2 linked regions of the Homo sapiens genome follow. The protein of the gene in region 1 interacts with the protein of each later gene in a pairwise test. Each region holds a gene or a part of one and is shown in the gene's direction. Other genes may lie near its edges.

The links. The genes of interacting proteins can lie anywhere in the genome.
Region 2: the proteins of CAV3 (region 1) and KCNJ12 come close enough for resonance energy transfer, tested with the Homo sapiens proteins (one study listed by BioGRID).

Annotation. Positions count from the first base shown.
Region 1 is NC_000003.12:8,736,795-8,743,823, forward strand, and holds part of CAV3 (caveolin-3), read left to right. Parts: intron 1-4,474; exon of another isoform or gene 4,475-5,808; intron 5,809-7,029. UniProt on the Homo sapiens protein: May act as a scaffolding protein within caveolar membranes. Interacts directly with G-protein alpha subunits and can functionally regulate their activity. May also regulate voltage-gated potassium channels.
Region 2 is NC_000017.11:21,414,339-21,420,381, forward strand, and holds the end of KCNJ12 (ATP-sensitive inward rectifier potassium channel 12), read left to right. Parts: intron 1-948; 5' UTR 949-1,004; coding exon 1,005-2,306; 3' UTR 2,307-5,532; downstream 5,533-6,043. UniProt on the Homo sapiens protein: Inward rectifying potassium channel that probably participates in controlling the resting membrane potential in electrically excitable cells. Probably participates in establishing action potential waveform and excitability of neuronal and muscle tissues.

The DNA of each region.
Region 1 (7,029 bases):
CAGAGGAGGTGGTTATTTGGTATGTTTTGGACATTCTCTGCTTTAGGGATTTGTTTGACTTTTTCTTTCTTTTATTTTTAGTGAGTGAGAAATGAAAAAAGTTAATGCAGAACAAGGATCATAAAGCAGACTCAGATATAGATCACAAACAGGTTTAGGTAGATTTCAGGTCTCTGTTACAGTCTGTTAAAGAATAAAGAAAAGAAAGAAGGAGAGAGGGGACTGTGGCTAGGAGGGATGAAGCCAGACTGTTCAGCCTCTCAACTGCCCGGGTTTTGCCATCGATGGAGGAAAAGAGAGATGGGAAGGAAAAGGGAATGAGGGAGACAGAGAGAGATGGAGAAACTGGACAGAGACTGAGAGGAAGGTGCAGGAGGCCCTGGCAGTGCCCCAGGTGGCAGGTGGCAGGGTGGCCTCACAGGTGGTAGCAGGTTTCTCATGGGCTAGGATGAGTGACACGGAAAGAATGCTGGAATAGGACCTGGCTACAGACTCAAGTTCTGGTCCAAGACCTGACAGTAACTTGCTGTGTGACTCTGAGGAAATCCTTTGCCCTCTCTGGTCCCAAGTCCCTGGTGCCACCAGTCACGGCCGTTTCACATTTAAAAAAGCCAAGGATGAAGAGTAGGAGATAGGCATACTACATCCATGGATTTGACCCCCAGTAGAGGGGAGGCACCCCTTTTTGGCCCTGCCTTTAAACCCAGGCAGCCAAGAACAGAGGAAGAGCCCTGTATACTCCAACAGACTTCAGCTGTGGTCTCCAAGGCTCGGGACTGGGCCCAGGGCAGTGTAGAAGGTCATGGAGATTGTAGCTGAGGAACTGGGGGGAGCACACCCCCATTTCTGTTGCCACTTGCCCTCCTCACCAACACTGATTCCACAAATCGCAACTGAATGCCTGTTCAGCACAGGCAATGTGCTGTCCCAGAGGACGTAGTGATGAGCAGGACAGCCTCACTGCATGCAAACCCTCCAGGCTGCAGGGGTGGGAATGTCTGCCAAAGGTCCCCAGGGCTCTCAGCTCACCAGCAGGTACACCCAAGGTTGCCTCAACCTTCAGACCCAGGTTGGAAAGGTCCTAGCCCCACTACAGGTATACCTCAGCACCTCAGAGCCACCCCACAGTGCCTCCAAGTTATTTCCAAGAGGGCTTAGGGCCACCTCACTGACAGCATGCTCTCTCTCTCTGCTCTCTCTTCTCTCTCTCTCCTCTTTCTTCTCTCTCTCTCTCTCCTCTGTCTTCTCTCTCTCTCTCTCTCCTCTCTCTCTCTTCTCTCTCTATCTCCCTTTCTTGACTCACACATAGGCCCCCAGGGCCCTAAAGCAGTGATGCTTGAACCTGAGAGTTATGCAGGTATCCCAGCTTCTGCAGTCAACTCCTCCCTCTTGAGCTTCTCCCAAGTTGCCCTTCAAGCAGGGGAAGGAGATAGATAGGATCCCAGCCTCTCCATGATACTACTCCCCAACCCCCTCCACCCACATCTGCCACAGAACGCCTGCCTTCTTCAGAAAAACAAACACCCATTTGCCCCCCGGCTCAGGCTACACAACACCCAGAGGAACCAGATGCCCACCAGCCCTACAAACACTTGTTCCAGGTTTGTGCTCATCAGGGACACCCTGTTGCACAAAGAAGAAACTGACCTGGTACCTCCCTTGGCGGGGAATCCATTCCTGGGGAGAAGATGAGAGGAGAACAATGAGAACATACAGGAGAAGGAGCTGAACACCGTAAATGAGTGCCAGGTTAGGTGTCATGGGAGGTTAGGAGAGGAAGAATTACTTTCATCTGGAAAAATCAGAAGCCAGCTATATGGACAGGTGGTATCCATGGTGCATCATAAAAATGAGAAAAATTAAAAATGTGAAATGGAGGAACAAAGCTTTCCAAGAAGAAATGGAATAAGCAAAGGCTTTCCCAACACTGGGAAGAATGTTGGGCAGAGTTGGCAAACGTAAGAGGCTGTCATTACCACTGCCCCTTCCAGTGTTCATGGCAGACATGACAATGGATCACAGCACTGCTCCATGACTAATGGATCACAGCACTGCTCCATGGAAGCCATGCACCATCAGCTAGTCATAGTGGGTACAACAGATAACACTTCGCTGCTCTGTCTGCAGAAGAATAATGAACTATCGAAGAGGATTAGGACAGAGGATCTGAAAGGGAATTTGTGGGAGAGAAGGCAGGAAGGGCAGGTTGAAACTAAATAATAGAGGGTCATCCAATCCACCTGTCATTCCATATTGGCAATTCCTTCCTTTTGGAAATGTCTTGCCCTCTGTCAATGACCTCTAAGAAGAGCTGCATCAGACTAATTCACACTGAGGTATTACAACTTAGTGTTATGAGGACTCCTGGGTATCAACTGATCTAGAGTTTTTCAAAATGCAGTCCACTTTCCCAGGGTCCAGTGGTGGGGGCACTTACTAAACTGCAGATTCCTTGGCCTTGCCCCCAGAAGTTCTTATTCAGCTGAGCTGGTGAATGTTTACACTTTAATGTTTGAGCATAAAAGTTTCATGCTCAGGCCAGGCACGGTGGCTCACACCTGTAATCCCAGCATTTTAGGAGGCCAAGGCAGGTGGATCACCTGAGGTCAGGAGTTCAAAACCTGACCAGGCCAACATGATGAAAACCTGTCTCTACTAAAAATACAAAAAAAAAAAAGAGCCAGGTGTAGTGGTGGGTGCCTGTAATCCCAGCTACTCAGGAGGCTGAGGCAGGAGAATTGCTTGAACCCAGGAGGCAGAGGTTGCCATGAGCCGAGATCGCACCACTGTATTCCAGCCTGGATAACAAGAGCAAAATTCCTTCTCCAAAAAAAAAAAAAAAGAGTTTCACGCTCAAACTTGTCAGCTTGTCAGCAACCAAGTCCCATTCATCCTATAGAAGACACCTGGAGCCCAGAGTTATCCCTTGTTTTCCCTAAAGACAGACTGTATCAGTTATCAATTGTGAGTAACAAATCATTCCAAAACTTAATGGCTTAAGGAAACAACCATTTTTTTATTTCTCACAGTTCTGTGGGTGGGCAGGGCTCAGCTTGGCAGTCCTGCTGGTCCCACTGGGGGCCTCTCATGCAGCTACAGTCAGATGGTGGCTGAGGCTGCAATCACCTGGGGGCTCCACCGAGCTAGAACATCCAAGATGGTTCACTCATAGCCCTGGAGGACTGGCAGAGATGGCTGGGAGGCACAGCTGAGCTGTGGTGCTGGGGTGGCTGGCCCTCTATCTCCATGTAGTTTCAGGCCTCCTTATTCACATGGCCTCTCCATTAGTCTCTCGAGCAGCATTCAGCAGTGCATTTCTAATTCTGCTAGTCTCCAGAGCAGAGTATAAAAGTGGACTTCTAACATGGGGGCTCAGTGCTCCTAAAAGCAGAAGGTGCTAGGCTTTCTGAAGGCTTAGTTCTAGAACTGGCACAACATCCTTTCTGCCACATTCTTGTGGTTAAAGTGAGTCACAGGGCAAGCCCAGACTCAAGATGGGATGAGACTACCTGAGGACAAACACCGAGAAGCATGACTAATGGAGGGTCATCTTTGGAGACCAGCAAACCACCCACTGAAAGCTCGTGCACAGCCAAGCCCAGAGCTCCACCCAGGGTACTTCTATTCCTCCCTATTCCAATATGCACCAAATTTCTTGAAGGCAGAGATTGAGAGAGCAGAAGAGCGGATGGGAAGGGACAGGCAGTGAGGCAAAGATCAGGGCTTAGTGGATTGCTGAGGAGCTTCTTCTGGCAGGTTCTTCTCTCTCTGTCTCTCTCCTTGCAGCCCTCTGTTATCTCAGTCTCTTCCCAGCTCCTTTACATAAAACCAAGTCCTGTTATGCCCCAGCCCAGGTGTCCTAGGTCCCTTAAGGTAGACCTGGAGCTGAAAAGAGAGGCTGGAGGGAACTAGGATGGGGGTAGATATATGGTCCTACCTAGGATGCTCTCAACTCCTAGAGCACCCTCCTGAAGGAGGAGTCACAGATGTTCTCAACTCCAAGCTCCAGATGATGCCTGGCCACCTCCTCCACCCATCAGAGCCAGCCTATGCTGTGTTCTGGCCTCAGGCCCTGCTGGGGTATCTGGCCCCTTCAATCACCCTGCTGTCAGGCTGACCTGAGCGTCACTCTGCCAGTCCCTTACGTGCCATGTGAAATAACACATGTAAGATACATGGCCCCAAACTGACATGCATAAAGGGCCATATACATCGTGGGTGTTACCATGGTTATCCCAGATTGTACACAGTTGTATTCTTTTGTTGCTACCTTTTATAACAAAAGATGCAGAGCTTTGTCATTTTTACAGTTTTTGCAGCTATCACCTCATTTTACTTCCTACTTTGTAGGCCAGTGCCTCTAAAACTGAGTGAAGGACCAGTTTTAATATTATTATTCTAATCCACTGCACAGCTATACTTTTGCAAAACGCAACAAAAATTAATCACTGGAAAAATGAAATGAAAACAGCCGTACAGTTACAAGCACCAATGTTTATTGTTAGATTCAATAAACATAAAATTACTGCATCAAATTTCTATGAATATTTCTAAGCACTCTCAACTTCTATAATTACCTTGTTGGGAGACAGGACACACTGATTGTGAACTGCCTTTTAAGTAGCAAGGTAATAGGGGAGGAAGCTGGGATCTGGCAAAAGCTAAGCCTCTCACTTGGGTTTTCTGACTCTGAAGCTAACTCCGTGTCATTACAGATCTTGGCCCAATCGTCTCTGTGTAGAGTTGAAAAAAGAAAACAAACAAACAAAAAACCTAGGATCTCAGAGAGGGAAAGTACCATGCCCCAAATCATACAGTAACTCAATGGCCAGTGGATACTGGGACCATATACCTCCCCACCCTGCTAAGAGCTATTTCCCCACCCACAGATATCCTATTTGAATTGTCCAAGGTCCTGGATGCCTACGGACTGAGTCATGCAGGACTCTGGGGGAGGTATTTTCGACCCCGGGTGACTGTTGTCCTCCCCCGCATCCTCAAGCAATCCCCCGCCCTGCTATCCTACACCTTCCCCGCCCTCTCAGAGACTGCGGGGACTGCGCTGGCTGGTTTCAATTAATCAACTGGGTCTCTTGCTGTTCCAAAAATAAATATGCCACAGAAGGGGACACCGACAGAATGTGCACCATCGTTCCCCCTTCCTCACCCTCCAGCCCCTCTCTCCAACTGCACACAGTGTCCTGAGCCTCAGCACGCAGATGCAGGCTTTCAGCCCACCACCCTCCAAGAAAAAGCCATCTCCTCTCTTCTGGAAAGGAATTAAGAAATGAAGTCACCGTATGCTTGTGCTGCATGGTACAGCTGCCTAGAGCTGCCTGAGCCGGGCCTTATAAATATCTCCCCAAACTAGCATGCTGTGGCCAAAGCTCTCTCAATGCTCAAATCTGAGCTAGGGGAACAGCTGCCTCCTCCAAGCCCAGCCCAGCCCTCTGAGAGCATGTTTTCTGAGATTCACAGAAAATAGAGCACTTGCCCCACACACAGCACCCAAAGGCAATCCCTGGAAATAATTCAAATGTTAGCACCAATGGCTTCTGCAAACACCAAAAAAAAAAAAAAGAAGAAGAAGAAGAAGAAAGATAATTAAAAGACACATACAGAAGCCATTGGCGGTAGGATTATTACTGTAAGTACTGTACTTACTACTGTAAGGAAAGGAGGACTCCATCCGTCTTATCAGCACAGACTGAGACACACGCAGACTCATTTATAACTAAGTAGGCTGGAGAATAATCCGGGATGTCAAAAGAATTTCTCAGATGTATTTTCGAGGAATCTTCAGAGCACCTGAAGGAATAATTACCATCACTGAGCAATATTACCATCACAATAGCCAGGCATTGTGCTAAGCACTGCTCAAGAGGTAGTGTGCCTGGGCAAAGTGGGTAATCAATCAGTATTTATTTGGATGTGTGGGTGGGTGGATGGATGGATGGATGAAAGGATGGATGGATAGATGGATGATAGATGAGCAGGCAGATAGGTGGATAGATGGATAGATGAATGAGTGGATAGATGGTGAGTGTCAGTCTGTTTTTCATTGCTATAAAGGAATACCTGAGACTGGGTAATTTATAAAGAAAAGAGATTTATTTTGGTTCATGGTTCTACAGGCTGTATAAGAAGCATGGTGCAGGCATCTGCAGCTGGTGAGGCCTAAGGAAGCTTCCAATCATAGCAGAAGGCAAAGGGGGAGCTGGCATATCACATGGCGAGAGAGGGAGCAAGAGAGCTGCCGGGTTCTTTTAAACAACCAGGTCTCATGTGAACTAACGAGCAAGAACTCACTCATGACCACAGGGAGGGCACCAAGCCATGGTGAAGGGTCCGCCCCCATGACCCAAACACCTCCCACCAGGCCCCATCTTCAACACTGGGGATCACATTTCAACATGAGATTTGGACGGGACAAACATCCTAACCATCTCAGTGGGTTGTGGATGTATGGATGAATACATGAAAGAAAAATGATCTCAGTCAGCAGGATCCAGGCCCTGGGGGTTTGACTAGAACCTCCATAAACATGGGGAGTGAATATGACTTTTCCATCCCTGTTCCAATCCCGAAGTCCCCTAAATTCCCAGCCAGCCACCACCTCCTGGAAGCCCTCCAAGAAGAAGTAACATCCTTCCTGAGAAGATGAGGCCCATTTTCTTCCTCTCCTCCCATCCACAGGGTTGCATAAGAGATTAAGTCATCTCTGATGAAACCTGCAGCAGAGAAAGCTGGGGGCCAAGATTATACAAGGAAGGTCCTGGGAGGTCAGCTTTTCCATTTCTCCTGCAGCCCAGAGTCTCACCCTGTAAACTGTGCTGCCTGCTGACACACCACCCCGAGTGAGGCCTCATCCTCAGGGATCCCCAGCCTCAGAGCACAGGGGGATCAGGGACCTGAGGTGGGGTGCAGGAGCTCAGAAGCTAAAGTCACATGAGAAAAGAGGGCCCAACACTGTCTGAGCAACATGGTTCTAGTCACTTCTTTCCCCAGAAAATATTGTACTGGAAAGAA
Region 2 (6,043 bases), on another chromosome or scaffold:
GTGGCGGGCACCTATAATCCCAGCTGCTCAGGAAGCTGAGGCAGGAGAATCGCTTGAACCCAGGAGGCGGAGATGGCAGTGAGCTGAAATCGCACCATTGCATTCCAGCCTAGGTGACGAGAGGAAGATTCTGTCTAAAAAAGAAAAAAAGAAAGAAAAGAAAAAAAGAAAATGTGCTACCCTTAGGGAGTGGTGGTCTCAGGGTGGGGTTGATGGTTGAGTGCCCCTGGCTACGTTATTGTTATTGCTGCCGCCATTGTGCCCTTAGAAGGGGCAGTGCTGTGGATATAGCAGGGATGGGACATGGGTCTTCCTGGGGCACAAGGAGGCCTCTGGTGCCAAGGTGGCGAGGCAGTGGCAGGATGTCTTGCGGGAGGGTGTCCAGGGTGGGTTTGAGGGACAGCCTGGGGCCAGGGGCTGTGGCCGGAAGGGGAGTCCGCTGGAGGAGGCTGGGAGGTGAGGTCCGAGGGGTCAGGAGCTTCCCTGTGCAGGTCCTGCATGTCCTGGGGGGCCTCTGGCATTGAGCAGGGGAGGGATAGGCACCGACTCAGCTTCCACAGGCCCTCTGTGGCTGCCATGGAGACTGGGGGGCCATGGGCAGAGGCAGAGAGGCTGGCAAGTTGTGCCCCGAACTGGCTGGGCAGGCACTGTTAGATTCAGGCCTTGAGGGTGGGAGAAGGGGTCGGATCCTAAATAGACTCTTCAGAGCCCTCAGTGTGGGAGTGAGGTGTGGAGCTGAGGTTTTTGGCTGGAGCTGCTGGGGGCCCGAAGGGGGTGGCCATTCGCACTGGGAAGGCGGAGTGGGGAGCTGGCTTGGGCAAGACCAGAGCACGATCGTGGGTCAATCAGGGTGGAAGCGTCCTCCAGTCACGTCTGGGGGCCCTGGGATGGGGGTAGAGGAGCCCGGAGCCACCAGCCCAGCCAGACATGCTGTCGTCTCTGTTGCAGGAGCCGCCCTGCCTGGAGCTAGCCTGGGGGCGAGCCAGGGTCCCCCAACCCCCGGGATGACCGCGGCCAGCCGGGCCAACCCCTACAGCATCGTGTCATCGGAGGAGGACGGGCTGCACCTGGTCACCATGTCGGGCGCCAACGGCTTCGGCAACGGCAAGGTGCACACGCGGCGCAGGTGCCGCAACCGCTTCGTCAAGAAGAATGGCCAGTGCAACATTGAGTTCGCCAACATGGACGAGAAGTCACAGCGCTACCTGGCTGACATGTTCACCACCTGTGTGGACATCCGCTGGCGGTACATGCTGCTCATCTTCTCGCTGGCCTTCCTTGCCTCCTGGCTGCTGTTCGGCATCATCTTCTGGGTCATCGCGGTGGCACACGGTGACCTGGAGCCGGCTGAGGGCCGGGGCCGCACACCCTGTGTGATGCAGGTGCACGGCTTCATGGCGGCCTTCCTCTTCTCCATCGAGACGCAGACCACCATCGGCTACGGGCTGCGCTGTGTGACGGAGGAGTGCCCGGTGGCCGTCTTCATGGTGGTGGCCCAGTCCATCGTGGGCTGCATCATCGACTCCTTCATGATTGGTGCCATCATGGCCAAGATGGCAAGGCCCAAGAAGCGGGCACAGACGCTGCTGTTCAGCCACAACGCCGTGGTGGCCCTGCGTGACGGCAAGCTCTGCCTCATGTGGCGTGTGGGTAACCTGCGCAAGAGCCACATTGTGGAGGCCCATGTGCGCGCGCAGCTCATCAAGCCGCGGGTCACCGAGGAGGGCGAGTACATCCCGCTGGACCAGATCGACATCGATGTGGGCTTCGACAAGGGCCTGGACCGCATCTTTCTGGTGTCGCCCATCACCATCTTGCATGAGATTGACGAGGCCAGCCCGCTCTTCGGCATCAGCCGGCAGGACCTGGAGACGGACGACTTTGAGATCGTGGTCATCCTGGAAGGCATGGTGGAGGCCACAGCCATGACCACCCAGGCCCGCAGCTCCTACCTGGCCAATGAGATCCTGTGGGGTCACCGCTTTGAGCCCGTGCTCTTCGAGGAGAAGAACCAGTACAAGATTGACTACTCGCACTTCCACAAGACCTATGAGGTGCCCTCTACGCCCCGCTGCAGTGCGAAGGATCTGGTAGAGAACAAGTTCCTGCTGCCCAGCGCCAACTCCTTCTGCTACGAGAACGAGCTGGCCTTCCTGAGCCGTGACGAGGAGGATGAGGCGGACGGAGACCAGGACGGCCGAAGCCGGGACGGCCTCAGCCCCCAGGCCAGGCATGACTTTGACAGACTCCAGGCTGGCGGCGGGGTCCTGGAGCAGCGGCCCTACAGACGGGAGTCAGAGATCTGAGCCAACCTTGGCCGACATGCAGCATCCACCCCCGGCTGGGGAGAGGCCCCGCGGTCGCTCAGGGGCCCCGGGTTTGAGCAGAACGGGCCCAGTGCCCTGGGTTGCAGACTCAGTAGCGTTTTAGTCGTTTTATGTTTCTTTGCAACGGCCTCAGAAGTTTGGCCGGAGAGGGGGCAGCCAGAGCGGCAGCCCCCGGCCTCAGAGGCTATCACAGGCTCAGGGCAAAGAAGTGGCCTCCTGGGGGGCCAGGCCACGAGGGCCAGGGCTTCTGCCTGAAGATGGAGCTGCAGCCTGCGGGGAAGCAGCTCAGCTCGATGGTGGGCCCAGCCTCTGCTGTCCAAGGCTGGCTAGCTGCGGTGCTCCTTGCTGGTTTTTAACTTGGGGAGAAACACCGGGTTTCAGCTTTCTTGACCTTAGCTTGGGTGAGACTGTTTACAAAAAAAAAAAATTACCATGCAATTGAAAAAATTTTTTTTTAATTCACAGGGGGCAAAAAGAACAATTAGAATTCCATGGGTCTGCCAGGATGCAGCAGCTGGCTGAAGGCTCCAGAGGGTTCCCCGAGGTGGGACTGGCCTCTCCCCGTGTGTGTGGGCACCACAGTCCCTGGGCAAGCAGGGTGCTCTGGGACCGCACTTCATCGAGCTCACGAGCCAGCTAGGCTCTGTTTGTGATAGAAAAATCAAGACCATGTTAATGATCGTAATAAAAGCTTTCTACTGTCGTTGGGGTGGTGGGTGGGGCTGGGAAGAAACTGGTTTGAGCTTTTAGAGTTTGCCTTTGTACCTTAGAGATGTGTCTCAGGGCCAGGCATGGGACCTGCCATCGAGGGTTCCTCCCCGCACCCTCGATTTTCCTGTTTTGCTTCTCTCTCCATTTCTGTCCAGGCCTCCGCCCAATTCCACAGTGAGGGGTGGTTAGGAGCTATAGGCCGGGATGGCTCCTTGGGAAGGGAAGTCGGGATCCCAGGCTAGGAGGAAGCTGGCAGCCCCGTCCCCACTGGGCCCACAGTGTGAGTCGTGCCTTAGAGACTCCGGGTTGTCCTGTTCTTTCTGGGCTTGCTCATCTCCCCCCAACCCTGTCCCACCCCACCCCTCCCATACCTCCACTGCTGAAGTTCCTCCAGCCCCTCTGTCTGCCTTGTGAAGGTGGCAGGGGCCAGGTCTGCCTGACATAGGACCACATCCTGTCCCTCCCTCACCTGGAGCAGCACAGCAGAGTTCAGGCAGGGCACAGCCAGGCCCTGGTCAGCGCTGAATGGCAGAGGAAAGATCTTAGGAAAGGAGAGGAATCGCCACCCCCTCCTGCCAACTGGGATGACTGGGGAGGGCCACGCTCATTCAAAGCTGAATCAGAAACCAGCCGTGGAACAGAATTCCTGCCGAGTCTTCCAGGGCCGCTCCTCCACCACCCTCCCCCAGGTTGAGGCACTATGGCACCCTCATCAGGAAGAGGTTTGGGGTCCCCTTGTTGTCACTGCTGGCTCTGCCACCCCATCTTGTTCATGGCAGCTGGTTGGGTCAGGTCCATGGTAGAGCCAGGCCCTTCCCAGGGCTGCGGAGAAAACCTGCTCTCTTCTAGTCGGGCTTCTCCAGAAGCCAGTAATCAGAAAGGATGTGTCTCCTGCTCCAACTCTGCCCCCGAGACAGCTCAGAGCCAGAAGGCACCCCGAGACAGCTCAGAGCCAGAAGGCACCCCGAGACAGCTCAGAGCCAGAAGGCACCGAGGACTCTGGCCCAAGTGGGGAAGCTGAGGCAGAGAGCAGAGGGGGTCATGCAGTGAGTGGGTGGGGTGCAGGAGACAGAGAGGGGCTGGGGGCGTGGGGTGGGGGTGTCTGCCTCTTCCCTCCACCTCCTCCCCTCCTTAGCAGCTGAAGACTCAGCCCTGAGGTCTGGGGCAATGGAAGTCAAGACACCCGACCCCTACATCCTGGGGTAGGCCCGACTCAGCATCCTGTCCCAGCTTCAGCCCCACACTCATTTCTGGCATAGAAGATTCCGCCGAGGCAGCTCTTTCCTCTCGGGGTCTGCCAGGGGTGCCTCAGCTGGTTCCTGCTCCCAGGCCTAGCCCCGAAGCCTTAGGGGCCTTCTCAGCCTTAGCCCTGGGTACTGGGGTGAAGTTGGCAGGGGAGAGCTTGACACTTCGCCTCCCTGATGGCCATGCTGAGGGACAGTGGTGACCCTGGTCACTTGGTGCTGGTGTAGGGGCCTGTGCCCTTCCAGGGCCAGTGAGACAGCCTTCTACTCCCCCGACCCAGAGCTGAGTCCGAGGACCCCAGGCCCACCTCCTGGCCCTCTTGGAGGTCTGTGCTCTTACCTCCCAGCCCCCACCCTGCGGGAGAGCAGCCCCAGCGCCTCATCTCCCCAAAGGCGGCAGATGCTTGATTCTCCTGCCCTCTTTCTTCCTTCCCTCGTATTTATTTATTTATTTATTGCTTGTGCTAAAGACCAAAATAGTCTCCCTCTTTAGTGCACTTGAAGCGGGAGGGCGGATGGGATGAGCCAGGAGCGAGGAAGACTTGGCCCCTGGGGAGTGTGTGTGTGGAGGCGTGTGCCTGTGTGAGCCTGCATGCATACATGTGTGGTGCACACATGCACACTCGGCTCTTCATGTGTATGACTGGGTTAGTAATACAGATACGTGATCTATACGTGTGTGTGTGTGTGTGTGTGTGTGTGTGTGTGTATGCAGGCGGTTATGTGTCTGTCTACCCCCAGGTGTTTCCGTGTACAAGTTTCCTGTGAGGGAGGGCACCCACCCATCAGGTTGGGCACTGGCACAGGTGAACCCCACAGTCCCCGACCCTCTGCCCTGATTATGCACGTCTGCTCCTGAGTGGAGCTTGTGTTCCAGGATGAGACATCTGGAGGTGAGCGTGTGCGTCCGGCTCGTGTGTAGGAGGCTGTGTGTGTGCCCATGTGAAACCGTGTACTTGAGTGTGTGTCTGTGTGCAGCCTATGCCTGCTGCTCAGAGCACGGTGGCCACCCCCTGAGCCTCTGCTGGTGCTGTGCTGCGTGGTCCCCACCCAGAGGGTCCTGGGGGGCGGGGAGGAGCCACCGTTGGGAGGCCCCTGTACGGGGTGTCTGCCCTGCGTGAGGGCATAGAATGTCAAATTATTTTAAATGGTGAAACTGGAGAGTTTTCATGTTATTTTCAATACATAGCAGTATCTAAAGACGTAGGCGATGAGACTAGACCACATTAAATGCATTTTGATCTCTTTGAGGTCCCCTGTGTTGAGATGTGTTTTCTGAAGTTCCCCTGCATGGCTCCACAGCGTGCTGGGCGTCCGCCCGGCTTCCTCAGCCTCCGCCTTGGGTGGGGGTTTCCTGGGGCTTCCTCATGGGTGAGGGTGGGGCATGGTGGCAGCTGTTGGGAGATGGAACAGAACTCAGCCTCCTTGCAGCTCCCAGTGGTCTCCAGCAAGCACACAGGGCTTGTCCCATGATGTCACCCATCCCAGGCGGCAGGGCCGAGCCTCCTGCCTTCCCTTCCTTCTGCAAGGATGTGCTGGGTGCCTGCTGTTGCAGCAGCGCCCTCCCCAGCTGGGGGAGGCTGACCTGAGACAGGCAACTCCTTTCCCAGGAGGGGAAGCCCTGCTCCAGCTTGTAGCAGGCAGGGGCTGAGGAGGAGTTTCAGAGCGTGCCAATGTCTCCACTGAGGTGACGAGACAAGCCTGGAGTGGGGTGAGGGAACACACACGGCCCAGTTTTGGGAAACTAGACTTTCATCTGTA